6 separate regions of the Homo sapiens genome follow, and all the other regions are linked to region 6. The links come from fine-mapping of genetic effects on gene expression. A gene starts in region 6. Each other region holds a variant in brackets. All regions are shown on one strand. Distances are between the middles of the regions.

Region 1 (5,000 bases), 97 kb after region 6:
GTCATTGCTCTAACCTTTGAATTCTGTCTGATCTGTCCGTCAAATGCTTTGGAAATGAATGCTGTATTTTTAACTTCGTTTTCATTGACTGAACTGTCATTCTTTAGAGTTTTGATACGTGTTCTTCCTGCAGAATCCAGTAAAGCCATGCTCGTTTTGTTGGGGAAAAAGAAGCACCCTAAGCATCGGGTCCCAGGCTCAGGCTTGGAGCCTCATAGGCTACGTTAGACCTCGGTTCCACCACTCACAGGGTGTGGCCTTCTTAGGTTGGTTACTTAGCCTCCTAGTTTTTTGTTGTTTTTTTCTCCTAGCCTCTAAACCACCAGAGATTAGCCTCCTATTGTGATCCTCTGTTTTTACATCTGTAAAATAAAGACATCATGGATTTGTTGGTATGGAAGTTTATAAGGTATTCAGTTCTGTGTCTGAGAAAAATTATGGTTCATTTTCTCTTGTCAAGGAGTGGCACCAGCAAAGATAAGGAGGTCATATTATGGAGCGAATGTCAGTGCGAGAATCATCTTGCATATCAGTAACTTAAATAGTTGATTCATGTGGCGTATTTTTATTAGTATAAGCTAACCCAGATTGTCTAAGTGTAGGGGAAGGATCATTAGATTTGAATTGTAAGTGCTGTGTTGGAATCTTGGCTCCGTGACTTGCTGTTCTGCTTTGGGAAGGTGTTTTAATTTCTCTCCACTTCAGTGTCTTGATTTGTAAAATGAGAATAATGATAGCTACCTCTTAATGTGGTTAAGATGACTGTTGAGATGATTAAATGAGATTATACCAAAGAACCTAAGAGTGCTGATACTCAGTAAGCACTAATAAATGGGGATTCTCTAGATTTTGTAAGTAAATGACCAATATTTCTGTCAAACTGCTTACCTTTGACTGAAACTTTGAACTTTAGTGAGACCTTCATATAATTTTCATGACACTTGACTTAATAACTGAACATACTGTGCTATGCTTTGGGTATAAGAGTATGATACTTTTGTGTATTTTGTAATATTTAAGTACTTCTTCCTAATAAGCTGTTGGGTAGAGCATATATATCTGTCCACCAGCCATCTTATTGAGAGAGACAATCTGTTCCTTCCACTGAAAGCTTAGGATCACAAGCTGAAATTTCCTTAATATGAAAACAAAAACAAGTTCACATTTTGGGTTTCATAAATTTAATTATGGTTAACTTTGGAAATTAAAATGTTTTCTGAAAAGTAACTTTTCTGTTCTCCCTAGGAAAAATCCATTATTAGAATGTAAGAGACAAAACAAATCTTTTAATTATACAGCAAAGGTGCCCCAGGGCTCAGTGTGTTCCTTTGCTGTCTTTTTTGCCAGCATCTTATTTGATCCTTAATGTGTCTGGAATGTGGTTAAGAATACTAAAAAATATTTTGAACTAGACTAACGTGCCATTAGCATTACCACCTTGGTTTTACCAGCTGAGTGAGCATTCAGATTCTTGATGTGCATATGAGGTTAACATCTCTTTAAGATACTGCCTGTAGGCTGGGCACGGTGGCTCATACCTGTAATCCCAGCACTTTGGGAGGCTGAGGTGGGAAGATCCCTTGAACCCAGGAGTTAAAGACCAGCCTGGGCAACATAGTGAGATCCCTGTCTCTACAAAAAATAATAAAAAAGATACTACCTGTAAACTAAGGTGGGGTTTTTCATTGATTATCTCCCTCCTCCTATTGTAAAACGTTTTGAATGAAATAAAATACATTTTTCCTTTGTACTCTCTTCTCAGCTTTTAAATTTACTTTTTTCAAGTCCTAGAATGTTTTTCAGCCTTATTTTTATTTATCTAATAAAACCTCTATTTTGGGGTTTCTTTTCATACCTTCAGTACCATAAGAAGATTTCAGGGTAGTTATTTGACAGGTTCTTGTCAAATAGTATAACACAACAGTCATCAAAGAAAAGGTGTGGAAAATAATGTTCAGTGTTCCAAAGTAGAAAAATTAGATATGTTAGTTATTGTAAATAAAAAGATAAAAACATGGATTTTCTAGTGTATGATACATGTATTAGTCTTGGTTCTACCATCTTAAGAAATAGTGGTTTTTTGAGATGAAGTTTCACTCTTGTCACCCAGGCTGGAGTACAGTGGTGCGATCTCGGCTTACTGCATTCTCCGCCTCCTGGGTTCAAGCAGTTCTCCTGCCTCAGCCTCCCCAGTATCTGGGACCACAGGCACGTGCCACCATGCCTAATTTTTTGTATTTTTAGTAGAGATAGAGTTTCACCATGTTGGCCAGGCTGGTCTCGAACTCCTGACCTCAGGTGATCCTTCTGCCTTGGCCTCCTCAAAGTGCTAGGATTACAGGCGTGAGCCACTGCACCTGGCTAAGAAATAGTTGTTTCTGAAAGTGATGCATGTTACCACAGGAATTTGACTAGTAGTGGCAGTATTTCCTTGTATGCGAACTTAAGTGCTACAAATCTCATCAGTCATATTTACACACTTGTGAGTGACAGGGAAGGGGAGCAAGAGCCTGCCTGTGAATTGTCTTTGCTGGAAAATAATCTTCTATTAATTTATTCTCTTTAGGGTATTAAAAACCAGTGACATGTAGCATGAAGGCGGATGAGGCCCATATTGCTAATGTGATGCAGATGTGGACGTTCATTGTGGCTTTGGTTTTTACCCACAAAGGCTGTAAGTCTGGAAAAGACTGGCCCATTGCCATGAGTAATTATGTTGTCTCCCTCTGTCTGAAATGGGGATTTGGGTGTGATGGGTTCAGGGAAAAGTGATGGCTGTGTAATCTCTCCACTCACAAATGCGTTATGACCCTGATGGAGTGCCCAGCTGAGCGCACTGTGGAGTGGCGCATCCTCAGGGACAGAGCCTGGCTATGGACAGGAGAGTTTTGTCCTGCTCTTACTTTTGGGACTAATACTACACATATATGATTTTATGATTTTAGAGACTTGCA[T/C]TATTTGACAAATGGTATTTAAAAAAGTTTTCAAATGGGAAGTGTTTAATTTTGAACTCTGTTTTTCTTGGTGTAAATTTTGCCCTTAAGTGATCCTTTGTCAAACACTTTTTACAAAACATTTAAGAGCAAGACTCTCCTTTCCACTTAGGAAGTATCACTCTTTATTCAGAGGGATGCTTTGAATGAAACCAATAAGTAGGTATTTTCAGAATGACTTCCCCTGTTTGCCTTGTTCATATCACAGTTCTGAGAATGACTGTATTTTTTGACCCATGTCTAGGCACATTTGCCCTTCTCAGCTGGGGCTGCTGCTTGGATAAGACTCTTTTCTGCTCTCTCAGTTATTTATTGCTTCTGTTTTTCTCCCCTTTCCTCACTTTGTGCCCCTTATACTTTCTTTCTACTTAATGTATCTCCTGCTTCTCGACTCCTTTTTACTTTGAGAATGTCAGAGAACAGAATGATCTGTGCTGAGCGCTGTGAGATGATGGACTGGTGAAGAAGGCAGGGGGCGAGGAGGCAAATGAGGAAACCCAAAGCCCCCCTGCCTTGCAGAGGCTGCACCTGGATTGGGGCAATGAGTTGAGGCATCAACATGTGGATTTCATGAGTCTGAGAGATGACTGGGGAGAGTGTCTATCCAGGGCCAATAAACAGAAGAGGATGGTTGGAAACATGGATTTTAAGGCTAGGAGTTGGAAGCTCCAGGTCCCTATCTCTGCCAGGGCCTTCAGTAGCTACAGGGTAAGACACTTACACTTACCTGGTAATCAGTTTCCTTGTCTGTGAGATAATGGAAATAACTATCTGTTCTACCTATGGACAGGCTTATTGTGAAATTGAAATAAGATAGGATGTACATAAAGGCCCCTTGTAAGGGATTAAGCCCAATGTGTGGAATAAACCTGCCCCATACCCTTGGGGAACAGTGTGGCCTAGTGGGTCATATCGGGCTGTCTCATAGGCCCGTGTGGCCCATCTGCGTGGAGGACTGGTTCTACCTGAGGATAAGTAATATGAGAGATGATTTCTATACTAAAATAATCACACACGTTGTCTTGTACAATACAATGCTTAACCTTTATTTTAAAGATAAAACATGGCACAGTCAAGCTGCCGTTACAGCTCTGTGTTCTTTCTGGGTTACCTGTTTACACACTTTTGTATATTAGACTATTTCAGTCACAGACCTTGCGAGCTGTTGGTACAATCAGAAGCTTTTGTGTTGAGGACTCAGTGGACATGTGCTCAGAGGCTCTCATTAAATCTCTCTGGGCCTCAGGTTCTTCCTCTCTGCTGTGGGAACCAAATGCTAGGTATTGGTGAGAATTAAATGGGAGAACATCTGGCACAGATAATGGCTAAGATGTTTAAGTTCCTCCTCCTAATTATGATGGTAGTAGTGACGATGGATAGTGCCTCCTGTAGTTCGGAAGGAGGAAGTTAATTCTGGGTGGGAGGTGGTCAGCAGAAGTTCCAGAAAGGAAGGAAGTTCGGTTATGAAAGAGGGATGAAATTTGGATAGTGGACAAGAGACAGTTTCAGGTGGAGAGAGAAGCCCAGACATGGGAGCTGGAGAGTTGGGCAGGGGTGGGGCAGCAGCAGCAGCCAGGCCATGGGGAAGTGTGACATGGGGACTGGGCAAGGCCAGGAGGGAAGCCCAGGAGTGACTTGTGGGACCCTGAGTGCCAAGCAGGGATTTGGACATCGCCTTTTGGAAAGGCAGGGCTTTAGAAAGGTGTGTGCGGTGGTGGGATGCAGTGTTCACAATTTCCTGGTGAGCTGATCCTTATGGGTCCCCCACCCCTCAGCAGGTATCTAGAAAGATTATCTTGGGCATAAAGTGACCTCTGCCCTCCCTGTTTGTCAGAAGCTCTTGCTCCTGGCTCTTGGGGTTAGGTTTTCTGCTGCTGCTGGCTTTACCCTGCAGTTGGTTGAAGGGTTTCCAGTTAGTCTTTGGAGGCTGACAGTGTAGGACCTGGTTTCACCTGAGCTTGGGGCCCTGCTCCAGGGAGAGAGCTGTTGTGGGGGTCATGATGTTTC
Region 2 (5,000 bases), 46 kb after region 6:
GAGAAACATAGCTGTCATCTCCAGGAATTTTAGTACTCATCAGTCCCAGGCTGTCATATGAAGCATTCCACTCAGCGCAGTAAAAAAATGTGAACTAGTCAACAGTTTGTATGGGAGGACTACTTTGTGTTTCGAACGTTTGGACTTGGAACACTGTCCCAGATATTGGTTAGGTTACACTTGGAAGATGTTGTTTTGGAAGCGAGTAGGACTTGAACTCCAACAGATACTGGGTTAAGGAGGCTGCCAGGTACCAGTCTTAGATCCTCGAGGGCTTGGATCTGGAAGTGCTGCTCCCATTTTGGTTTGTATTTTGTAATGAATGCTTGGAGTCAGCTCAGGGTCCAATCATTGAAGCATTTATGTGTGAAACATTGATTATGCAGTGATTACTTGAGGAGGTGACTGGTGGTCACAGCTTATTTCTCTAATGTCTTTCCCTTTCTCTCCCACTCCTGATTTCCACCTGGGAATCCTATCCTTCCAGTGTGGAATGTATCAGAGAGTTTTAAAGCCCAAAGAGACCTTGGAGGTGATTATTTCTCTTACGTGTTGTATTTAAGGAACCTGATAATAACTAACTTCAAACATTTATTTCAGAAAGTTTCAAAACTATACAGAATTAAAGATAATAGTACGATGAGTCTCTATATTTCACCCAGATTTAGTAATTTTAAGATATTGCCCAGGTACAACTATCACATATAGAGCACTTCACATGCTTTACTTTTATCACCTCCCAATAGCCTTTTGGGGTTAGATACAAATATATTTCCTCTCTTGAAGATGAGAAAACTGACAGGCCCAGAGAGATTAAGAACCTTGCCTGGGGTCTCCCAGTCCGCAGCCAGCCGCCTGTGACTTCACCCTCTCTGCTGCACTGCCTGGAGAAGTTTTAAAGTTTGCCTGACATACACGGTCAGCTGAGGTCAGGCTAGAAGTGGAACCAAGAGATCTCACTCCTTCGTTGTTTCTTTTATTGTGATTTTCTGTGGCTTTTCTCTTTCCTTTATTCTTTTGATTCTTTTGCAACTGACTTTCTGGGCTTGAAGCGTCCGAGTACCATTTTAACTCTGATAGGCAGACAGCGGCATCCCAAGGCTGGGGTGGTGGGAGTGGTCTGCTCCAGTGCTGGTGATGAGGGGTGCATTGTCTGTGGAGGATTTAATAACAGTAATAAAAGCATCCAGAAGTCTGCCTGTAAAGTCTAAATGTCTAGAATTTTGCCTGCAGTTCTAAACAATGTCGGTGATATTCTTTCCCCCAAAATCTTTTGTTGGTGTTCTAAATAATTGCTTTATTGAGTTTTAATAATAGATACGTAAGCTTCAAGTGAGTACTTCTTGAGTACTTAGCCTTTAATAGATACTGTAGGCCGAGCGCCATGGCTCATGCCTGTAATCCCAGCACTTTGGGAGGCCGAGGCGGGTGGATCACCTGAGGTCAGGAATTTGAGACCAGCCGGGCCAACATGGTGAAACCCCGTCTCTACTAAAAATACAAAAAATTATCTGGATGTGGTGGCACGTGCCTGTAATCCCAGCTACTGGAGGGGGTGGGCTGGGACAGGAGAATTGCTTGAACCCGGGAGGTGGAGGTTGCGGTGAGCTGAGATTGTGCCATTGCACTCCAGCCTGGGTGACAGAGTGAGACTCCGTCTCAAAAAAAAAAAAAAAAAGAAATACTGTATGCAACATGGAGGTTAAATCTGACACTCCTGGTGTCAGATTAGCCCTAAACACATGGGGATTCAGCTGCTTGCATTCATTTCCAGAGTAACTTCTTAAGACTTTAGAATTGTTCAGAAAGCTTGCTTAGGACAGTCTTGTGTATTTAACTCTGTAGTATTACGTATATCTGTTTTTAAACAGTAGATTTGAAATAAATGATAGTGTTACTGATGACTATAATTGTCACTCTGTTTGATCACTTGGAGTTTTTGTCCAAGAGTCCTTAAAAATTACAACAGTGAAACAGAATGCAAACCATGAGGTGTAATATTTTTGCTTGGTAAGTGCAAAAATAATATCTGTAAAATTAAAACTTATCACATTTAAGACAGTTGTTTTAAAACTAAAGAACAAATCAAGAAAATAATAGTTACTGATTTTTACATAACTATTACTGAAAATAATTTTTTTCATACATGGAGGGTGTGTTAAAAAATATTCCTTCCTGGGTGTCTAATGTGTTAGATATGCCGTTGTAGGCGAAGGCTTTTTCTGTGATTCGTTTTTAAGTGAGGAGATTGAGAATCTTTCATATGTGCAACTGGAACCGTTAGGATAGGAAGAAAGTTACACAGGGCATTACTTGTA[C/T]TGAAGGATTACTCTGTGTCTGAAATTGCTGGCACTTGGTACAGCTTTGTCTCACTTTGATATTTGTCAAGCTTCAGGCCTGTCTGCAGTGCTGACAGACTGTGTGTGCGACAGAGGCAAGAGCTCCTGCCGGCTCCTTTGCTTGGAGCATGCAAAGGGGGCTTGATGCCTTCTCTTGGGAGGGGGCCGTGGCGCCTTTGCAGTGGTAAGACCTCAGCCAGAACCCTGGCTTCTTGACTCTCATCTCCAGCATCACTTAGAACAGTGCTTCTCCATTGATTTTGCCCCCAGGGCACATTTGGCAAGGTCTGGAGACATTTTAGTTATCACCACTGGATGGGGGCTGCTATTGGCATCTTGTGGGTAAAGACATGACTCCTGCTAACTGTCCTGTGGTACACAGGACAGCCCCTCTACCCCTCCAGTAAAGAATTACCGGGCCCAGTTGTCCAGTAGTGCTGAGCTTGAGACACTGACTTAGGGCAAGTTACTTAAACTTGCATGGCCGGCTTCTTCATTTCCTCAAAATGGGAAAAATAACAGCAGTACTTTTCTCATAAGGTTGTTGTGAAAACTATGGGAGACAGTACATTTAAGAGCTCAGTAATTATAATTGTTGTTATTATTATGATTAACTTAGTGAAAATAAAATCCAAAAGGTAAAAAACAAACAAACAAACTGCTGCTGTGATATACTCATGACCAGTAGAGAGTCAACCATACTACACTCTGTGTACCCTTAGTACTACACAGCTGACCCTGAACACCTTGGGTCTGAGCCACATTAGTCCACTTATATGTGGATTGTTTTCAATTGAACATGGATCGAAAACGCAATATTTCGGGATGCAAAACCTGCGTGACCAAGAACTGCCTTTTTCTGTATCTGTGGGTTCTACAGCTCCGATGGGGAGACTTGAGCATGCACAGATTTTGGTGTTTGTCCAAATACCAGTCACCTGCAGATGACCTAGGGGTGACTGTAAATGGATAACAGTGCTTAGAATAATGACGTTGAATCAATATTCAGCGTATGAAACTTAGTAAAGTAGGAAATTGAACTAGAAACTTTTAGAAACATTTTCTTTTCTTTTTTTTTTTTTAAGATGGTGTTTTGCTCTGTTGCCCAGGCTGGAGTGCAGTGGCACAATCTCGGCTCACTGCAACCTTTGCCTCCCAGGTTCAAGCAGTTCTCCTGCCCCAGCCTCCCGAGTAGCTGGGATTACAGGCATCCGCCACCACGCTCAGCTAATTTTTGTATTTTCAGTAGAGACAGAGTTTCACCATATTGGCCAGGCTGGTCTCAAACTCCTGACCGCAGGTGATCTGCCCACCTTGGCCTCCCAAAGTGTTGGGATTACAGGCATGAGCCCTCGTGCCTGGCCTGAAACATTTTCAAAAGAAGAAAGTATTTCTGGCCAAATGTTAGCTTATCAATATTTTCTCAACTGTTCTGATTGTGTCACCTCATGTGCCTGTTAAGCTACCTGACCCCTCCCTTAAAGTTTTTGATAAAGGGATCGGGGAATCTTGTTTTAACATAATAGTCCTAGATGATTTTTAAGATCAAGCTAGATTGGGGACAGTACTTTTAGGTAGAAAAAAGATTTATCAACTAAGATTGGGAAAAACCTGGCTTAGAGTAAAGCAGGTTTCTTTCCTGCACTACTCTAAGCACTTTATATGGTCAATGGTAAATTGTATTATGCATTGTGGGGAATGAGAGTAAGAATATATATATATATATATTAAGTAACATTTCCTAAACTTAACTATGAAATGTTCTGTTAAACACATTTTCTGATGATGTTTCACAGACAGCACACTGGGAAACAATTACAACTCCCTCACCATAAATTCTGATTAAAGGAGGGTTTCCTTCCCCTTCATATTTTAGCAGAATAGCTATATAAACCCAAAAGTATTTGAGACAGGTCGCAATCAGTTTAGAAGTTTATTTTGCTAAGATTAAGGACAATGACGGGGATTAAAAAAAACATGGCATCACACAAGCAGTTTATAGTCTGTGCTTTTCTCCAAAGATGATTTTGAGGGCATTAGTATTCAAAGGGGAAAAGCAGGCTGAAGGGGAAAGAGGGTAGGGTATTACTGAATCCACATGTTGCAAGAGAAAAGGAGCAGGTAGGGGAATAGTCAGTTACGTATTCCTCTGGAACTCAGTAAATCAACACTTTACCTAGATAAGGTGAACATAGAGTAGCCGCCTGTGGAGATACTTAACGTTTTATCAGTAGCTATCTACGTAGGAACAAAAGGAAAGGCAGCATCTTGCATGACTTAGCTTTCAGCTTAATATTTCTCCTTTTGACATATTGAATTGGAGTCCCAAGTTTTTGTTTTCCTTTCACAGCTACTTGGCTTTCGAGTGGCCCTGCAGTGGAGGGGCGGGGTGGGTACACATCACGACTCACATAGGGTGAGTCCATCTGGGTCTATACACTCATGTGTGGAGATGACTCCAGGCCAGTCCTGGGCACATAGTTTGCCTGTCCTTCTCCCCCAGGGACAAGGTGCCCCTGGGACCCTTTCAGTTTAGGTTTGTGGGAAGAGCTTTCCTCACAAATTGCTTCCGTGGGCTTCCGAGACAGCAGGCCTGCCGTCTGAGAATTCTGTTGGCTCCTCAATTGATGCCTTGGTGGGATTATCTAATTTCTGCCATGG
Region 3 (5,000 bases), 200 kb after region 6:
TACATTGTGTATAACTTAGATGAGAAATTAGCTTTGCCTGTGCATGAGCTATCCTGGAGATCAGAATACCATTTCCTGTAGTTTCTGAGAAGAGACAATTGTCTAGTAGAAGCTTTACAGGCGACCGAAGGACTCTTTGTGTCTCCGCCACATGAAGAGCTGTGTGCTCCGAGGCTAACTGAACAGAAACCCTGTTGGCTTGTTGCTCATTCATTCATCTGTTCATCTGTTTGTTCATTCCTTCTCATTGAACTCACAGCCTGAAGGATAATAGAACAGACAATCAAGTAATCATTAGATGATTAGGAATGATTGCAGGTTCCTATGTCATAATTGAGTAATGTATGTACTGCCCAGCTTTGTTCCTCAAAGGGATTTTAAGTTCTAACCAAAACACGCAACAGGGCAACAGGGTTGAGATTTTTATGTAGGGAAATTCAGTGAAGGGAAAAGAAGATTAAGAAAAGCAGATGAAACCATAGATGAAATTAGTACTGGAATACATGCCATGAGGAAGGATTTATTTTGAAGTTGCTGTAGATGGAAAGTGGCGGGGATTTTTTCTACCTTTAATTCCTAAGAAAAATATGGCCTGGCTGTGAAAGATAGTGCCTTCCTGGTCGGGATTATTATTTAGCTTGAAGGATGTTCAGGGCCAGCATTTAAACCCCACAGCTCACCCAGTGTCTGCCTTGAGAGAACATCTAACAGGCATCCCTTGCTGCCCTCTGCATCACTCACCAAAGGTGACAGGGCTGATGAGTTCATTTCTTTGGAGTAGTGTAGGACTGGCACTTTTCTTGTGAATAATTGTAACTATTGAAATCTTCATTTGTCCTATGAAATAGACTGGTGTTGACCAGGATACCAGTTTGTATGGGGGTCTTGTTGGTTGCAGCTGGAGAGGAGCAGCCTTGGAGGCCTTCGTGGTAGGTGCAGCCCTGCAGCCCATCCTCTGGTCTCTGCTGTCTGCTGAGGCTCATCAGCGCAGCTGCATGCTTGTGGGTAGAGGGCACAGAGACGTGTGCCTTGAGCAAGACTCTTGTAGGATTGTTCTTCCCTCCTCGTGTTCCCTAGAGTTAGAAACAGTCATTCAGGACAAGTCTGGCCTGGAGTTGACAGAGATGCATTCATTAAGCCCTTATTTTCACTGGGCATGTGTTTGGCATCTTGGCATGCTGCTCAGCAGGCAATGGAGGAGGAAGAGCAGTTAGCCCTGGCCGTGCTTCCCACACGGAGTAGGACTGCAGCCTGCTGTGGACAGAGAGCCTACAGGCCCTTCAAACACCCAAACCTACTTCACCCAAAGCAAATATTTCACAGCTTAATCAACTTCCTTTTAAAAGAGTAACAATAACTTAGATCACTAAGTGTATTTTTTAGCCTCCTAGAATATGCTGAAAGCTCTCCTATGGATACTGCCACATGAGGAAATTTGAAAGGGAGTGAGGTAATTGATTTGCACCTTGATGAGTTATGTAGAGGCCTTTGTGGTGTACCTGCAGCAGCTGGAGGAAGCCAGGCCTGCAGTGAAGTGGGCAGAAAGGCCTTGGCATCCAGCTGCCCCTCCACGAGGCCCTTCCCTTCCCTCAGGAGTCACCCAAGCTGACTGATCCTGAGAACCATGCATGGCACCCACTTTAGTCCTATGCGGTACTTCGACAACATGAAAAGCTCATTGCCTGTCTGAACTGGGATCTTCTGTTGGAAGGATGAGAAAGCCAGAGGCCAAGGCAGAAGGAGATATATTGGAAGGTCCAGGCAGGTCTCGCATATCCCTTGTCCTGTAGGTCTGGAAGGACATCAGGCTGTAGAATGAGGCCCACTGCAGGTTTCTCTTCCTTTGGGCTGCTTCTCTCACCTTTGCGCACTGCTGTGGCTCTGGGGCCTTAATGTGCAGGTCGGCTTTCTTGCTTCGGATGGGATGTGGCAGGACAGTATTAATAGCTTTCCCCACCCTTCATCACCTCTCCGTTTAAGGCCGCACACCCTCTAACCCAGTCTCCTCTTTCAGTTTTGGAGAGGGGAGATTTTGACTGGCCCCAGTTCCTTTGGGGTCAGATGTTCATCTGTAGAAAAATCAGTCATGACCCAGAGTTGAAGGAGCTTGGTCCTGCTCTTTTTTTTCTCACTTTGCACGCTCCTCTGTTCAGAACCTGTGGTGGTTCCCATCTTCCTCAAAGGAAAACACAAAGCCCTTATGTTACTGACGGGGCCTAGCAAGATTAAGCCTCCCATCTCTGCCCAGCTGCCTCCACTCTCCTCAGTGTCATGCTGCAGCTGCTCTGTTCCCTGGATGTACCGGACACACACCTGCCTCGGGACTTCTGCACCTCAGGACTTCCTCCACCCCTTGGCACCCAGCTCCCTCTGTCCCAGGTGTGTTTGAGATGCGTCCTGCCCTCCTCCTCCCCATCTTTGCTCAAAGGGCACATCAGGGGGCTGTTGCCTGGCCACCATATCTGAAGTTGCAACCTCCCTCCTGCACCGCACTCCCTGCTCATCACTTCCTGCTTTTTCTCCACTTGCTTATCACCTGTCAGCATGCTTTAGGTTGAAGTCATTAATTTTATTGTTTTGTCAGTAAGCCCCATGCGTAAGAAATGTCTGGTCTTTTTGTCCATGTGGTTTACTACAATACGACCAACATCTGGAACACAGCCCAGCTCATAAT[G/A]AATGCTCAGTAAGTATTTGTTGAACATGTAGTGAGCACAGTAATAACTGCCTACTGGCTGAAGTACATGGTGGTGATGTGCCTGAAACATAAGGATCATTTAATACCTATTTATTATCTTCCCCTGCCCCAGTAGTTTTAGAACATTGACACATTTCATTTCATTGCTTAACTTTTTTTTTTTTTTTGAGATGGAGTCTCACTTTGTTGCTCAGGCTGGAGTACAGTGGCACAATCTCAGCTCACTGCACCCTGCACCTCCCAGTTTCAAACGATTCTCCTGCCTCAGCCTTCTGAGTAGCTGGGATTACAGGCTTGCGCCACCATGCCCTGCTAATTTTTCTTGAATTTTTAGTAGAGAAGGGGGTTTCACCATGTTGGCCAGGCTGGTCACTCCTGACCTCAAGTGATCTGCCCACCTCAGCCTCCCAAAGTTCTGGGATTACAGGCGTGCGCCACCACACCCAGCCCTGCTTAAGCTTTCTGAAGGGACAGAAAAAAACTCGTCAACTTCGGGGACATCACTCAACTGAACCTTGATTGAGCATTCCGTGTGAGGTTAGTTCTGTCTGTAGAGCCACAGCAATGGGAGAGGGAGAAAGAGAGGAAGTTGGTGATTGATGGAGGGATTCCGGCATAAGGGAAGGGGAACCAAGAAGAGATCGAGGTGGCAAAGTGACAGCTGACCAGACAGGAGGGGGTGTGGTCCCTTTCTTTATTTCCTATTTTTTAATAGCTTTATTGGGACATATTTTATATACCATACAATTCAGCCATTTAAAGTGAGCATTTTAGTGGGTTTTAGTACATTGTACAACCATCACTACAACCTAATTTCAGAATATTCCCTTCACCCCATAGAGAAACCCCTTACCCTTTGGCATTCACTCCTCGTTCTTAGCCTCCACCCAGGCCCAGGAAACCACTAATCAAATTTCTATGTCATTTGCCTATTCTGAACATTTCATATCAATAGTATCTCATATGATAGTTCATGATTGGCTTCTTTTACTTAGCATATGTTTTTGGGATTCATCCATGTTGTAGCATGTATAGTATGTCCTTTTTTATTGCAAATAATATTCCATTGAGTGGGGATACATACACACACACACACACACACATATATATATATAGATCTATATATATGTGTGTGTGTGTGTGTGTGTGTGTGTGTGTGTATGTATATATAGATCTATATATATGCTGCAGCCCTAATCCCTGTTGGAGTGAACAAAGGAGGATGAACGTGAGAATAAAGACAAAGACAAAAGAATGTATTTGGAAGAAGGGGTCAGGGGGCTCCTTGCTTTTAGTGAACAAGGGCCCAGAGCTTCTATAGCCCTTCGTATTTATTGAGTAAAGGAGATACAGAGAAGGGGGTGGTTGTCAGTCAGCTGCTTGACTTAGAGCAGGCCTGCACAGCTGCATTCTCTGAACAGTAGTCTCTAGATGTTCCAGTAGATAACCTCAAGGAGCACGGCACCAGGGAGTGATTACACTCAACAAACCTTCTGGTGGCAGGTGCAGTTGTGAGTTTGCCCACATCCTGCATTCATGATAAACAGTTTGCTGTTTGATCATATAGCCTCCAGTGGAATGCTGAGTTGGTCACAACCCACAGGCTTTTGGCTCTCTCTGTCTCTCTCCCTATATGTGTATGTATATGTGTATGTATACGTATATGTATACATATACGTATATGTATGAGAGACAGAGTGAGTGTTGGCCCTCCTTGTACAAGGGCTTTGCACCTGAAGATTCAGCCAACTGTAAAATGAAAATGTGGTTAGGCCTGTGATGGTTGCATCTGTGCTGAACATGTACAGAATTTTCTTCTTGTCATTATTCCCTAAACAAAACAGTATAACCACAATTTACCTAGCGTTTACATTGTATTAGGTATTATAACTCATGTAGAGATGATTTAAGTATACAAGATGATGTGCATAGGTTATATGAAAATGGCTCTGCCATTTTATATCAGGGACTTGAGCATCCTCACATTTTAGTATCTGCAGGGGCCCCTGGAACCAACCTTCCACAGATGCTGAGGGTCACTGCACTTCATTTTGTTTACTCATTCATCAGTTGGTGGACATTTAACTTGTTTCTACTTTCTGGCTATTATGAATCCTGCTGCTATGAACATAAGTTTGTGATAAGATTTGTATAAGTTTGTGATGTAGTTTGGCTGTGTCCCCACCCAAATCTCATCTTGAATTGTATGTCTCATAACTCCCATTATTGTGGGAGGGACCTGGTGGGAGATAACTGAAACATGGCAGCAGTTTCCCCCATACTGTTCTTGTGGTAGTGGATAAGT
Region 4 (5,000 bases), 110 kb after region 6:
AGTGATTTTTTTTTTTTTTAATTGAAACCTCCTGGACATTTTGGATCTTATTTAAACCTTCTGTTTTAGTTGACTTATGGCATTGCTCTGGCAGAGGATGGTGGGCCACTCCCTTGTTACTGCCAGGTGGAGACAGAAGTTCAGGTTTTACTTAGCCGCTGTTGACACTGAGGGGATGTGGCTGGGGCTCTTTGTTATAGTTGGTGGGAGTCTCACTTCTCCATGTTGTTTTCATTGATAGTGCAGCAGTGTAGGGAGCTGGTTATTACTGGCAGTGGAGGATGAAAGTCCTGGCCCCCTACTTGGCCTTCTTGGACCTAGAGGTGTTGGGGCATCTCATTACCACTTCACAATGGCAAAAGTTTAGGCCTCACACTCAGCCTTTGTTGGTGTGGATGGGACTGGAGCCACAGTCGTTTTTGGCGCCTGTGGAGTAGAGTGGTTATTATCTAAAAATGTTCTGTCTTGCTAGACAGGCTCCTTTCTGTTCTTTGGACAGAGAGAGCAGGTGTTCTTTGGTCTGTACCCTTCATGTTTGCAGATTGTCTCCTTCTTCAGCTTTTATCTGAGATAAGTGAGGCAGAAAGGAAACTCAGGGAACTCACCCCTGTGCTGTTTCTCATGTCCTTGTGTCCCTGGCCACTCTGGAGCAGAGGTTAGCAGAGGTTCTCTGGAAAGGGCCAAGTGGTCTCTGAACTGCTCAACTCTGCTGTTGAACCTCAGAGGCAAGCGTAGATGAGATGTAAGAGAACAGGCCTGGCTGCTCCATTTCAGCTTTGCTTATGAAAACAGCCTGGCCTGGATCTGCCTACCCTCCTCCAGACCCTTGCTTCCCACCCCTCCTAGTGCTGACTCTTTGCTAGATGTCTTCAGAATAAGCTTCAAGTTTTCTTCACTGCAGCGTATTCTGCTGTTTTAGACCCCTGTCCGGGGCACAGCTTTGTGGTGGTGATCACCTGTGGGAGAGAACTTCAGAATCAGCTCCTAGAAAGAGTGATTCTGGGCAGCAGAAAGGACGGAGCCTAGAGCAGTTTCCAAAGTAGAATGAAGTGTAATTGCACACGTGGGACTCCAGTCCCTGCTTATCTTTACTTCTGAGAAGCATTACATACATTTGTTAATTATGCTACAAGAGAGGTAGTCTTAACTCATAAACTGAGCTGAAAGAAGTCTAGATTTTCACGTGTCATTGCTATTTTAAGACATCTCTTTTCACACATCATTTTGTTTTAACAAGTGTACCTGGGAAGTTAAGGATGGGTGCTCTTATTTCCATTATATTGCTTTGGGTTTTTCTCTAGAAGAGAGAGTATACAATTGCCAATTCAGAAGTGATTCTATATTGTTAGCACCACTTATAAGACTCCATTTGCCTGAAATGGAAAGGAAGAGTCCCATAAGGAGCTAGAATGGGGCCCCATGTGGTATGAGGGTCAGGGAGAGTCTGTAGCACTGACAGGTGTTTTGGCCTCTTCTGAATACCGCCTTGTTTTACCATGTTGCAGAATGGAACCATTGTAAGCCAAGAACAAGTTGGCCTTTAAACTGTTGTTAGCAAAGAAGCAGAAGCAGTCTTCTTTGAAATGACTTTCATTTTGGAAGGAACAGAGACAAGATGAATAAGAGCTTTCCCTGATGTTAAGTGTTTGTGGCCTTAGAGAGTGGTACAGAGTTTCCTATGTATCTGCATTGTGTACGTTTCTTGTTTTCTTAATTTTAGGGCCCTATTATTACTATGCTTTAGCTTAGCAATTGGGCTTTTCAATGGAAAAAGCGGTAGGAGGCTGGGCGCAGTGGCTGCGAGGCCGAGGCGGGAGGATCACTTGAGCTCAGGAGTTCGAGACTGGCCTGGGCAACATGGGCGAAACCTCATCTCAACTAAAAATAAAAAAGGAAATAGCCAGGGATGGTGGTGTGTGCCTGTAGTCCTAGCTACTTGGGAAGCTGAGGTGGGAGGATTGCTTGAGCCCAGAAGACGGAGGTTGCATGAGCTGAGATTGTGCCACTGCACTCCAGCCTGGGTGACAGAGTGAGGCCCTGTATGAAAATAGAAAAGAAAAAGCAGTAGGTTATTAGCATAAACTTGATAAGAGTTCATGCTGGTGTATCTTATTTTAAGGTGTAGATGTCTTTAATAAAGTTCATTTCATTAAATGAAGTTAATTACGTATTAATTGTAAAATAAAAATGTGTTTCTCTGGAAAACAAATTTGGCTGTATGATTTAAAATGATCATACTTAAGAGAATACCCATTGTT[G/A]TAAAGTCTGTATGAAAGGAAAAGTTCCCATTTATAGTTTTAGTTAAAACGATGACATAATTTGAAAGAACTTAGATTCATTGTTGCATTTTAAATAATAGCTTAAAAGTCCTAGTAAAGCAATAGTGAAAGTGTACCTGGGTATAACACATGGGCTGGCTAGAAATGTCACTTAGCCTGCATGACCCACAGAGTGTTGCCATAACTCCTGATGTGTAGGGCCCTGTTTGCGTTGGAGTGATGCAGATCTCTGAGGCAGTGCTGGTTGCCCTCCAAGGGCTTATGGTGGTGGTTGGAGAAATAGAACTAAATAAGGGAAAATTAGGTAACCTTGAATGCTAAGCTTAGAACTTTGAAGCAGAAGCAATGTGAGTCATTAAAAGGACATAAAATTAACTCACAGTTTATTAGCCATCTGCTGTGCATCAGGCTCATAGTGTGGTGGGAGAGATGGCTTTATAATTGAAAGGTAGTGAAATAATGAGACCGGAGACTCATACAAATTGCCTGGATAGGAGGTACTTTGTTGGGAGTTTAGGGTGGTCTACCTGCAAGACTTGATATTTGAAAATAGTTTTTAAAAACAAGTAGGAGTTTGCTTGTAGGATGAGAACTTTTTAGTTAAGGGAAAACTGTTTGAAATACTGAGATATGAAACAGCATGATGTATTTGGTGAGTAGAAGACATTTTCATGTTTGGAACATATAGAGTATGAGTAATGAATTTGGGAGTATGAATAAAGAAACTACTGGGGATGGCTACGGGACGGGCTATTGATGTGGTTTGTGTTATTTTCTCCCTTTATTTCATATACAGTCGTGTCACTTAATGAAGGTGGTATGTTCTAAGAAGTGCTTTCTGAGAAATGTCTCATTAAGTGATTTCGTCATTGTGTGAACATGAGAGAGTGTACTTACCCACAAATCTAGATGGTCTAACCTACTACACATGTAGGCTGCATAGTATAGCCTGTTGCTCCTAGGCTACAAACTTGTACAGCATCTGACTGGACTGAATACTTTAGGTAATTTGAACACAGTGGTTAAGAACTTGTATATCTAAACATCCCTAAACATGGAAAAGGTACAGTAACAATACGGTATAGAAGATAAAAAATAGTATGCCTGTTTACCATCTCCATGAATGGAGCTTGTAGGACTGGAAGTTGCTCTGGGTGAGTTAGCAAGTGGGTGGAGAGTGACTCTGAAGGCCTAGAACATTTGTGTATACTACCAGAGACTTTGCAAACAGTGTACACCTAGGCCACACTAAACTGATACAAAATATTTTTCTTCACTAATAAATTAATCTTAGCTTGCTGTAACATTTTTACTTTATAAACTTTAAATTTTTAAAACTTTTTGACTTTTGAAATAACAGTTATAACACAAACACATTGGATAGCTGTACAGAAATATTTTTTTCTTTATATCCATACTCTGTATGCTGTTTTCTGGTTTAAAATTTTTATTGTCTTTTTAAACTTTTTTGTTAAAAACAAGACACAAACACACACATTAGCCAGGCCTACACAGGGTCAGGATCATCAATATCACTGTCTTCCACCAGCACCTCTGTCCCACTCTGTAGAAAATGAAGTAGAGGTTCCTCTTCAAAGGGACTTTCCTCGCAGTCTAATTGGGAATAAATAGTAGCCTCTCTTAGAAGCAAAATTTACTCAAAGACCTGTGCTAATATTCTTAAATATCTGCTAGCCGTAATAAAGAAAGGAATATACTTTGTGTTCTTAGCCCCCATCTTTTAGGCTAGATATTTCCCCTGGCATACCTGTACAGGCCCAAGAAAGCATTAGGTCATAGCCTGTTCCTCTTCCTTATTTGGAGGTGTTTTTGCCTTTCTCAGCATTCCACAAGTTACTTCCTCCTTTCCTTTGTTCTCCTCTATGTATGTCTCTTTTGGGATGTTCTAAGTTGCTAGCCAATCAGGACAAGTACAGAATGTGAGGTCCCATTCCAGCCAATGGAAACTGGACACAGCCATAGGGTGGACGTGTCAGACTATAAATGACCCTGTCTCTTTTGTGTGTGCTCTCTGGCAAAACTGCTAGCGAGTAGCACCCTTTCTGCAGAAAGTAAATTAGCCTTGCTGAGAGATCCTTTGTCTTAGGGTTGATTTCTGCGACATTGAATACCCATTTCCAACACACTTGAAGGGCTTTAGAGGTGACAGCACTCATGGAGCTGTTATCTCCCATGATAGCAAGGCCTTCTTCTGGTACCTCCTGCAGGCCCTGCCTGAGGCTGTTTCACAGTTAACTGTTTTTTGGCTTTTTTTTTTTTTTTTGGAGACGGAGTCTTGCTCTGCCATCCAGGCTGGAGTGCAGTGCGTGATCTTGGCTCACTGCAACCTCTGCCCCCCGGGTTCAAGCTATTCTCCTGCCTCAGCCTCCCAAGTAGCTGGGATTATGGGTGTGCGCCATCACGCCCAGCTAATTTTTGTATTTTGAGTAGATAAGGGGTTTCACCATGTTGGTCTGGCTGGTGTTGAACTCCTGACCTCAAGTGATCCACCCATCTTGGCTTCCCAAAGTTCTGGGATTACAGTTGTGAGCCACTGTGTCTGGCTATAACTGTTTGACTGGCAGCACAGTAGGTTTGTTTACACCAGCATCATCACAAACACAGGAGTGATGTGTTGCACTACATTATGATGTCACTAGGTGATAGCAGTTTTTCAGCTCCATCATAAGCTCAAGGGACTACTGTCATTGATGCAGTCTG
Region 5 (5,000 bases), 120 kb after region 6:
TCAGCCCTTAGTTGATTCAGAGCAGAAAATGGAAGGGAGAGTGAGGGGCAGATAGGGAGGCAGGGGACAGAAAGACCAAACCTGAGAAGCAGAAGCTACTTCTATCAGCTGAGGACCTCAAGGCTGAGCCACAGAGAAGAGAACAAATTCTGCTTAGCATGTGGAGGGAAGCCCACGTCATATTTTGTAAAAAAGCTTATTTTAACTGATGATTAAAATGAAGCTTTAGTTCAGAAGAGGGTAAAAATAGATGGAAATCTGTTCAGATGGGATTTCTTAGTTGAATCTGGAGTGATGCAGATACACCGTGAGAGGCAGAGCTGAGAGTCAAGAGGCTCCCGGGCCAGCGCTGCTGTCTGAGAGGCCACAGAATCTCTTCCAAAGGTGTAGATAGACCAAGCTTGTCCAGCCTGCAGCCTGCAGGCCGCATGTGGCCCAGGAGTGCAGCCCAACACAAATTTGTAAACTTTCTTGAAACATTATGACCTTTTTTTGCATTTTGTGTTTTGTTTTTTGCTCATCAACTATTGTTAGTGTTACTGTATTTTATGTGTGGCCCAAGACAATTCTTTTTCTTCCATTGTGGCCCAGGGAAACCAAAAGATTGGACATCCCTTGTGTAGACTAATGAAGTGACGCTTCTTCCCAGGCATGATGACACTGTTTTGACAGGGCTGCACCCTGTTTTGACAAGGTGGGACCCTGTCTTATAGGGGTATAAACAAAGGAAGTAATGTGGTAGGGGATGCAGAGTTTTCTCAGAACTCCTCCTAGGTTAGTAGTAGCGGGTTCCACCTCCTCCACCAGCTCAGCCCCTGTAGAGCATACTCTCATTGCACCATCATGACTTGCCTGGAGGTTGAGGAATGGGCAGATAATTATTATACCTGTTACTTAATCAGATGTGCACTGGATGAGCACCTGCTTGGGGCTCTCCTTGTGTTGGGTACTTGGGGGGAATACATACTTGGAGGGAGTACTTTATACCAGGACTAACAAGTACAGCTAACTGATCTTCCAGTCCCTTGCTAATTAAAAGGAAGGGAAAAAAAGGATTACTGGCTGAGGTAGATATAAATGCAGCCTAAAACAACATCTGATAGCCTGGAAATCAGATACAAAAGCTGTGAAGACCTCCATTGCATGCTAGTGGAATAGCAGGGGATGTTAACAGCATCTCTTCCTTGGTGAGGTAGCATGGTGTCATGGGAAAGAATGGCCTTTGTTTCAGGTAGAGCTCCCTGATATCCCTGACCTAGTGTCTCCCTGCCGCTTGGCAGCTGTGTGAACTTAGTAATGTTCTTTAACATCTCTGAGCCTCTTTTAAAAAATCTCTCTCTCTCGTATATCTCTATTTAGTTATTGAGAATCAACTCACTGTAGGCATTGCATAAGAGAAACACAGTGGTGATGCCCCCTGGCCCTCAGGGTCCCACCTTGTTGAAACAGTGTCATCATACCTAGGAAGAAGCATCACTTCATTCATCTACACCATGGGTGTCCAATCTTTTGGCTTCCCTGGGCCACATTGGAAGAAGAAGAATTGTATATGTACACACACACACACACAGGATAATTATTAGAAGTTTCAAGGTTTTGTGGAAATTGGAATTTATGTAGGTGAAATGCCTGGATACAGTGCCTGGCACATAACATTCATTCAGTAAGCATCAAGCTACTGTTATTATAAATATGATTTGAACAAATGGAAGAGAAAAAAGAAAATACCTTTAGCAGGAGCTCAGAGGAAATAATCAGCATGAAATGTTCGTGGAACATATTTAATGTGTTATCTATTCTGTTGCATAAGGTTTTCTAAAGTGTCCTGAATGTGGCAGCACAGTACCTATGGCACGGCACAGTATCATAATACTCCTCACTCAGTTATTTCCTCCTTTCATTAGCCCAGGTTCTCTTGTTTTATTTGTTACTCAGTCATTTATAGAGCATGGATGATAAGTGATGCTCCATGCCAAGCACTGTACTGTGTCTAAGATGAACAGGATACAGTATTTGTAATCAAAGGAACTTGTATGTGGAGGTTGGGCTAGGACATCCACTTATTATAAACTGAGGGAGGGATGTGAAGAGTGGGGAGCAGTGGGCAGGGGTGGGAGGGGCTGATGATCCACCCAGCTGGCCTGAAATAGGAGACGATGGCATGGACAGCTCCCAGGCCCACCACTGGGCTGGCTGAAGGTCTCCTGTTTATGGAAGCAAGTGGGGGATCTGAAGGATGACACTTTCCATATCCTGTGCCTGAGGTTTGGTTGTGTTAAAGAGAAAATTATTCCATGAGTCTTGTTAAAGCACAGTAAGGCAAACTTGACTAAGGACCATCTCGATAGGTAGAGGGACTGCAGCAATGGGGTTTTGTGATGGGGGAAAGAGATTAGGTTCAAGTCTAAATATAGCATGGGCAAGTGGGAATTTATGGCCAAGGAGCAAGGGATGTGGTTAGTGAATGGAAAATTACTAAGAGGAAACATCAGGAGTAAGGAGAATTCTGGCTAAATCAGTCTGACAGGATTCTTGCTGAAGGCAGAC[A/C]GGGAGGATCACCTGAGGGTGATCAAGGACAAGGAGCTTGATTAGATGTCGAGGGTCAGGGGTTCTTGCTAATCTGACTTAGCAGGGTGCTTTGCTAAAAGTGGAGTTTATAAGGAAGTGCACAGTTGGGCCCAGGAGAAGGTTCAGAAACCCGACCAAAGCTTGGCCAAGCAAAGACTCTTTCTTTAGAGTCATCCCCCAGCATCTTGGGGATCTTTTTCAGAATACTTGGGACCACTTGATGAAAATTTGAACCCAAGGTCTCTTTTGCTGCCCTTTTTCTAGTGTTCATGGCTTCTATGTGTATTATTCATGGCAAAGTATGGGCCCTTGGTCTACTGAATGATTTTGTGTTTGAAAGTGGAAATGTCTGATTTGTTATTGAGGTATCTCAGTGTTAGCATCTTCATTTGTCCCTGATGTTATTGAGTCCAGCCTGCATACGTAAATGCATAAATAAATCTCTCTGTGGATTTTCTGTTTTTTTTTCTCCCGGCACATCCCACTCTTTGCACCTCTCCTTACACTCAATATAGTTATATTCCAGGCTCCTCTAATCTCCAGGCATTTGCTTCAATGGTGGCCACACTCTAAGGCACTCAATTCAGTACTGGAGTTTGATCCTAACTCTAGAAAATCAAGTCTTTACATGTCAGCCATAAACCTCTGGAAGTGGATTAAATAGGAATTTTGATGATTAAATGTGAATATTACCACAATATAATAAAATTGATGTTTTTCACTAAAGTAACATTGTGACACCTTTGCATCCACAGAAACAGTGTTTCTTCAAAGCAGCCATGTTAGGTGGAGCTCGTTTTGATGCCTCTTTAGGAATGGCGGTAGTCCTGGCTCACCAGTGGCAGAAGGACCCCGTCTTGCCACTGGATAGTGTATCCGCTCCCTTTCTCCTGTATTTTGCTCCTTGAGATTTCCTGCACTTAGCATCTCTGCATCTTCACCCTCATCTCACCCTTCTGGTATTGCTTTGCCATTATGATCTGAGAAGATCCTCTTCTGAAAATCAGGAAACCATGGTGAACTAGCTAGACAGTGAGACCATGCTGAGGCTGGAACCAAGAGCCTTACTCTGAACCTAACAGGAAGCGATTGAACTTTCAGAAACACAGAGGGCAAGGACCTCTCTGCCAGGACCTGTCTTATTTGCTTATTTGCACTCACTGCTGCTGCAGCTGCTCTCTGTGACAGCTTCTCAGAGTGTGCGGGTGGAGGGGTCATTCCAGAGCAGAGGGGCTGGTGCTGGATTGGAAAGCTGCCCACCACTCCAGGTCAGAAACACTAGCCGTCCCTCTACCCACAGCCTGCACAAGTTGTGTCCCAGATCTCAGTGTGGGTGGTGCCCCTGTCAGGAGGGCTCTTTCCATTGAGCGCCTCTGCAGGGTGCACTGCTGTGCTGTGAGGAAGGCAGAGCAGAGGACAATGGGATCTTGGCATTCCCAGCATTGTATTGTGTATCAGCTACGTTAGGCCTTAGTTAGAGATATTTGGGGAAATGGTTGCAGCGGCACTTTTGGAAAGTATAAACTGCTGGTAAATGGAGGTTCTGTACACTGAAAGTGAAGGTGTGTCTCCTTGACACTGCCTTTTGGCAGATGGAGGTTCCTGATCTTCATGGCTTCTAAGGAAGTGACTTCTTTCACTAGAGGGATTCAAGCTAGGGTTCTGCATTCAGATGTGCTAGATGTGGAACCATAGTTGTGCTATGTGCTAGGAGTCTGACTTTGTATGATTTACCTTATCTGGTTCTCCTTATTCATCTAAAAAATAGGATTAGTAATGTCTGTTTTAGAGAGTGTCTGTGAGGATTAAATAAACATGTCTGGCACATGGTAGATGCTTACTAAACATTAGTTTCTTCCTGTGTTCTTGGTTACCCACAGAGTTAACGTTCAGAAAGCATCTGTTACCTCAGTAACAATGGACGTAGAATATGCTAACTCAGGTGATCCAGAGTATATGCATATATGTATATAAGTTACTGAATCTGACAGAAGGAAGAGTCAAGGATGTTTTGGTGACTGAACTCTAAAGCAGCATAAGCTCGTGGAAGGTAATAAATAGTGAAACTCTGGAAGCACCAAGTTTAAAAGGAAAAAGAGTCAATGAAGCTAAGAGATTACAATTTGATAACAAATGACATCATATACCAACACTTTAGGAAACAACTGTCAGGCAGAACTTTAAAAAAAGATTTATGGAAATTGTTTTAAAACTCATTATTAAATTTGGCAGCACATCCTCAACTTGGAGAGAAAGGAAGAGGCAAAGAAATCAAAGGCTCTGACAGTAATTTATGGATGTAGGCAAATGATAAATACTTCCAGAGCTTGAAATTTACACCATCATTTGCTTGAAAGTAACCACTTGTTAACTGGATTTGGGAAGTAAGTTTATGACATTGACCTACTTCCTGATCATCAGCAAAGAAGCTG
Region 6 (5,000 bases):
GCCCTTCAAACCATAATTTGAATGTAAATGTTATACATTTTATAATGAAATAAAAATAGCTTAATGCATCTGAGTAGATATGCCACACACCTATGGTCCAATGACTGGATGCTGACTTTCATATGTGGCCCAAATTACAAAGCAGCAATCAGAACAGACAACAACAGACAACAAGGGAACTTCTCTCCCACGGGTTCAGCAATCTGACCCAAACTCCATAGCCCCAGACAATCTGAATACACACATGCAAGTGTAAATATGCCCCAGTTTTCCCAGGAAGCAGGAAAATCTACACAGCCTCAATGAAGAGCACTATTTTGGACTGTTGTTGTCTACCCACCCTCTCCAGGGCTTTAATTCTTTAGAACTTCCCTTTTACACTTCTTTTCTCATCTGGTCAGCATTACCACTTTGCAGCCACTTATTTTCCATGGACATCTGCCACTTATCCTAACAAATAGCATTAATACAGTTGAGAGCATGGAGCGTTTAAAATATGGACTAATAAATGTATAAACAGTACTTTGAGAGGGAGGGAAAGCACAGGTTAAAAAATGGCTAGATGTAGAGAATTAAATGAAATGTTTATAAAGCCGTTCACACGATGTCCACACATTGCTGATGCTAGATAAATATCAAGTCCCTTATTCCTTCTCTTACCTTTTAGTAACTGGATTTGTCACGAACAGGTACTGAGGTCTGCATAAATCAAGGCATGATTTCATCTCTGGGCCTCAGTTTCCTCATATATAAAATTAAGACAGTTGTACTATTGTACTAGTTTTTTTTTCAAGAACTAGTTCAAAAACATTCCCAGCTCCCACCCCCACCCCCCCACCCCACAAGACTCTCCTCAAGACTCCTTCAGTAAATATTTGGAAAAAGGGTGGGAAGTTTGTTTCTGCCACCTTATATTCTTCCCAATAAAGGCAAGAAAAGTCAGGGATGGCTGGCATTGTGGGCGTCGGGAGGGAATGCGAACCAACATTTACTCTACTTCTCTCCCAGCCAGGCATGTTCACATACCTTGATCTTAGTCAACTGGCCTAAGTTAACTTGTTCCCAACATGACAAAACCCGATGGCATTCTAAAAGCAAAGCAAAGCAAAGCAAGGGCAGTCGATGAGTTGTGTTAACTTAGTTTTCTATCTCATGTTAACCTCCAAGGAACTCAAAACAACTCCACAGCGAATTCAATATTAAAATAGCTCTGGGACCCCAAGATTTATTTCACAGCTTAAAGCAAGGTCACTATCAAGTCCTCGGCAAAGCTCAAAATACAATAGAAAACTCCCAAATCAAGCCCCAGCTTATTTAAATGCTTAGAAAAAAAAAATAGCCAGGTGCCGTGGCTCATGCCCGTAATCCCATGGGAGGAGTCCAGACGGGAGGATTCCTTGAAGACAGGAGTTCGATACCAGCCCGGGTTACGAAGCGAGATCCCATCTCTACAAAAAGTTAACACACACACACACACACATTCACCACCTTAGCCTGGCTTAGTGGCGGGCGCCCGTGTTACAAAGGGAGATCCCATCTCTACAAAAAGTTAACACACATACACACCCTACCTTAGCCTGGCGTAGTGGCGGGAGCCTGTAGTCCTCGCTACTTTGGAGACACACACACACACACACACCCGTAGTCCTCGCTACTTTGGAGACACACACACACACACACACACACACACCTTAGCCAGGCGTGGTGGCGCGCGCCTGTAGTACCGGCTACTTTGGAGGCTGAGGCGGGAGAATCGCTTCAGCCTAGGAGTTCGAGGCTGCAGTGAGCCGAGATTGCGCCACTGCCCTCCAGCCTGGGCGACAGAGCGAAATCATACCTCTAAAAAAATAAATTAGAAAAATAAAAAGACAAAAAGAGCCAGCCCGGTTTCGGAGAGGCAGGTGCAGCCTCAGCGCCCTGGGCCTGCGTCCCCGACCGGGCCCTGGCTGCGCTCCCGCCCGCTGCGGGCCCCGGGGACGCACCTCGCATCCCGCGCTGGGCCCCGTTCCGTCCAGCCCGGGGGAGTGGAGGAGGCAGAGGCCGGGTGGGGAAGGGCCTCCAGAAACCGAGCTCCCGACGACGTCTCCCGCGACCCCAGTGCCCGAGAGAGGAGCGGCCCCCGGGAGCGATCCCACAACCGCGCGGGGCTGCGCCGCCCCGAACCTCCCCGCGGCCGCCGATCTGCTTCCAGGGCAGAGGGAAGGGGCGGTGACGGGGCGGGGCGGGGGCTGCGGCGAGGGCGGGCGCCGCTGGCGAGGGAGGGCCGCCAGCATCCTCCCTGGCCGCGCCGCACCGCGCCGCGAGGAGTCCGGGGGCTGCGCCCACGCCCGCTGCCCGCCCGCTCGTCGGCTAGTCCCGCCGTCCGGCGCGGACACGCGTGCCCCCGGCTTGAACCGGAACCTCTTGCCGAGGCGGCCGCCGTCGCCGCAGCCGCCGGGGAAGCGGACACCAACTGGGGAAGCGCGGGGGGGAGGCGGCCTGCGCGGCGCCGCCCGCCATGGCCGCGGCGGGGTGAGGTAGGCGCGGCGGCCGCAGTCGCGCGGACCCGAGCGCTCCTCCGCCGCGGATAGGCCGGCCGAGGGGGAGCCGGGGCCGTCGCCCGCTCGTCGCCGCCGCCGCCGCCGCCGCCCATGGCGAGGCCCCGCCGCCGCCGCCGCTGCTGACCCGGCGGCCGGCCGCCGTTCCGCCCCCTCCCGTGGCGGCGAGCGGGCGGGCCTCCCCACACGCCCCCGCCGCCCGCGCCCCGCGTCCACCCGCGCCCCGCTCCCGGGGACTGGGAGAACAGGATAGCAGCAGGAGTCGGGGGGCCGCCGAAGATGGGGAACACTACCTCGTGCTGCGTGTCGTCCAGTCCCAAGCTCCGGAGGAATGCCCACTCCCGGCTGGAGTCCTACCGGCCAGACACGGACCTGAGCCGCGAGGACACGGGCTGCAACCTGCAGCACATCAGCGACCGGGAGAACATAGACGGTGAGTGCGGCCCGCCGAGCCCCCTACCCGCCCCCGCGGCAACAGTCGCACAGCCAACGTCGGGGCGGCCCGGCTGCTCTTGCTTGCCCAGCCGGTCTCGGCGACCCGTGCATAACCGGGGCTTCGCCCGCGCAGCCTAGGCGCCCGGGGCCCCGCAGCCTCTGGGCGTACCCCTCGCTGGTTACCCCCAAGTGAGCGGCCGCGGAAACTTTGCAGGCCCGCGGCATCGAGCACGGCGGGCCTAGGGCGGGTGTGTGCGCGTGGGTCGCGAGGTGACAGGAGCCGGCCCTCGTCCTTAATGGAGCGGCCAGAGCTGGGTGGGGGCGGCCCGGGAGCTCGGGGTTCCCGGCACTACCTGAATGCAGCCCGAAGCCAAGTTGTGCACGCGTTTGTCCTATAAAAGCGAAGTGAGTGGATTCCCATTTTGGAATCCCGGTGTCTCCAACCTCGAGTTGGAGAACCATGTTGAGTCAGTTCCCCGGAACCTTACAAATGGACTCCACTTCCCCCGTTCCCATTCTACCGTTTTTTTTAAAAAATGATTTTTTTGAGTGGCGGTTCCAGGATTAGTCAAATAGCTTCTCCCGAGAATGCTCTTTAAAAGATTGTCAGACACCTTTGGGTTAAGTCTCAGTTTTTGCATGGGCCCGAATTGCAGTCCTATGAATTTCTGATTTATTCAGGTGACTTTTGGTTGGTCTGGAGTTTGCAAAAAGAAAAAAAGCTAAGACTAATTACTGCACGCAGTAATGTTTTATTTATTTTATTGGTTTGGCAACATATTTATTAGCACTGTTGCTCAGTGATAACGACAGAGGGATATTTATGCATCATGCTTAAAATATAGTTTATAGAATTTTCAACTGAAAAGATTTGAAATTGGAAGTATCTTTTTATGACAAGGTGATTTTTTTAACCCAAACATCTTCTCATAGTTAATCTGGTTGAACTAATATGAAGAAATTTTTGTGTGAATGAATGAACACAACTTCATAATTCGTTCCTGTCCACTTTAGGATGGAAGATTCTCTCCACTGTGGAAAGGCCACATTTAAACTTTGCTAAAGGAAAGATTTTTCTCGTTTGTCTTCGTGTAATTTCTTCTAAATGGTAGTTTAATCTTTTTAGGAGAGCATCTTTATTAAATGAGTGCCATGTATAAAGGGAGTAACACAACGTCTGGTTTCTAGTACGCGCTTAGTAAATTATGGTTCCATATGACGTGTCTAGTGTTGTTATTTTAGATTTCCATTATTTTAAACATACGCTTAGATGTCTTTGAACTACAGCCATACTTTCTTCTTAAATTTATGCATTTAAAGGCATCTAGAAGGATGAAGGCCAGATCGGTCTTGATCACTTTCACAGCCTCTAGCACCTGAAAGAAAAGTCTAGCATATAATAAACAGTAAGTATTGTACTTTAAAGGGAGGAATAAATGAATGAGTTTATTACAGAAAGCCATTACCCAGTCCTATACTATGTTGACAGGCGAAAACATTTGGAAATAATGTCTTCTTTATGATGTGCAGTAAATTTCCTTTTTATGTTGTGCAGTATCTAGCGGAGGCTTTGTTTTGAATGATGGATCAAAAAAGAAAAAAAAGAAGATTTACATTTCTTAGAGCCAGGCTGCATACAGTTATTATAGACTATTGTAAGGAAATAAGGTGGAAAAAATAAGTGTAACCAGGTATTTGGCACTAAGGCTCAGTACAATTTTGCCAGAGTACAGTGAAATGATATTGTGTGTTCTTTCATTTCAAAGAAATCTTAAGTTTCAGTCATCAGGAATTTTTGAGAGAATGTTTGGAAGACTCTTTTGCAGATTCAGGATAGTTTGAGAGAGTATAGGGCAGGTTTCCAATCTAGGCTGTGGAGTGCCCTCTCATCCCAGATCCCAGTTCATATGATTATGCTAGTTTAAACCCCGAAATATTAATTCACCTTCTGTCTCTCAAATTCAATAAATAATACTTCTAGCATTGACCCAGCCAGCAGTTCTCAACATTGGTTTCAGTTAAACCAGA

Alleles and levels. Alleles are on the strand shown, and positions count from the first base shown. SD is a standard deviation of normalised expression in the study named. Not every link is listed here.
For the expression in lymphoblastoid cells of the gene that starts at base 2,187 in region 6, allele T in region 2 goes with a higher level than allele C (moderate effect, 0.72 SD a copy in GEUVADIS).
With allele G in place of A in region 3, the expression in tibial nerve of the gene that starts at base 2,187 in region 6 is lower (moderate effect, 0.71 SD a copy in GTEx).
In carriers of allele G in region 4, the expression in sun-exposed skin of the gene that starts at base 2,187 in region 6 tends to be lower than with A alone (moderate effect, 0.67 SD a copy in GTEx).

The links. PIP is the estimated chance that this variant, and not a neighbour inherited with it, causes the effect.
Region 1: its variant is fine-mapped to the expression of CCNY-AS1 in whole blood (INTERVAL, PIP above 0.99).
Region 2: its variant is fine-mapped to the expression of CCNY-AS1 in lymphoblastoid cells (GEUVADIS, PIP 0.95).
Region 3: its variant is fine-mapped to the expression of CCNY-AS1 in tibial nerve (GTEx, PIP 0.92).
Region 4: its variant is fine-mapped to the expression of CCNY-AS1 in sun-exposed skin (GTEx, PIP 0.92).
Region 5: its variant is fine-mapped to the expression of CCNY-AS1 in sun-exposed skin (GTEx, PIP 0.98).

What each region holds. Positions count from the first base shown.
Region 1 is chr10:35,431,547-35,436,546 of GRCh38, forward strand. All of the region lies in intron 1 of CCNY (cyclin Y), which reads left to right. Among named protein-coding and RNA genes, the nearest start is that of CCNY, 98 kb to the left of the region's middle. RefSeq lists a silencer at 2,289-2,358. The variant T/C (reference allele first, on the strand shown) is at 2,955.
Region 2 is chr10:35,379,905-35,384,904 of GRCh38, forward strand. All of the region lies in intron 1 of CCNY (cyclin Y), which reads left to right. Among named protein-coding and RNA genes, the nearest start is that of CCNY, 46 kb to the left of the region's middle. The variant C/T (reference allele first, on the strand shown) is at 2,319.
Region 3 is chr10:35,531,178-35,536,177 of GRCh38, forward strand. All of the region lies in intron 7 of CCNY (cyclin Y), which reads left to right. Among named protein-coding and RNA genes, the nearest start is that of GJD4, 72 kb to the right of the region's middle. RefSeq lists an enhancer at 1-498. The variant G/A (reference allele first, on the strand shown) is at 2,675.
Region 4 is chr10:35,439,703-35,444,702 of GRCh38, forward strand. All of the region lies in intron 1 of CCNY (cyclin Y), which reads left to right. It overlaps LOC124902410 (a long non-coding RNA gene), which reads right to left. Exons shown (of 2, transcript XR_007062112.1): 1 at 4,048-5,000; 2 at 3,709-3,893. Among named protein-coding and RNA genes, the nearest start is that of CCNY, 110 kb to the left of the region's middle. The variant G/A (reference allele first, on the strand shown) is at 2,259.
Region 5 is chr10:35,458,899-35,463,898 of GRCh38, forward strand. All of the region lies in intron 1 of CCNY (cyclin Y), which reads left to right. Among named protein-coding and RNA genes, the nearest start is that of CCNY, 120 kb to the left of the region's middle. RefSeq lists enhancers at 3,272-3,816, 3,817-4,359, 4,784-5,000. The variant A/C (reference allele first, on the strand shown) is at 2,548.
Region 6 is chr10:35,334,238-35,339,237 of GRCh38, forward strand. It overlaps CCNY-AS1 (CCNY antisense RNA 1), which reads right to left and starts at 2,187. Exons shown (of 4, transcript NR_186477.1): 1 at 1,983-2,187; 2 at 1,691-1,839. It overlaps CCNY (cyclin Y), which reads left to right and starts at 2,272. Exons shown (of 10, transcript NM_145012.6): 1 at 2,272-2,970. The coding sequence starts at 2,817. RefSeq lists a silencer at 1,898-2,637.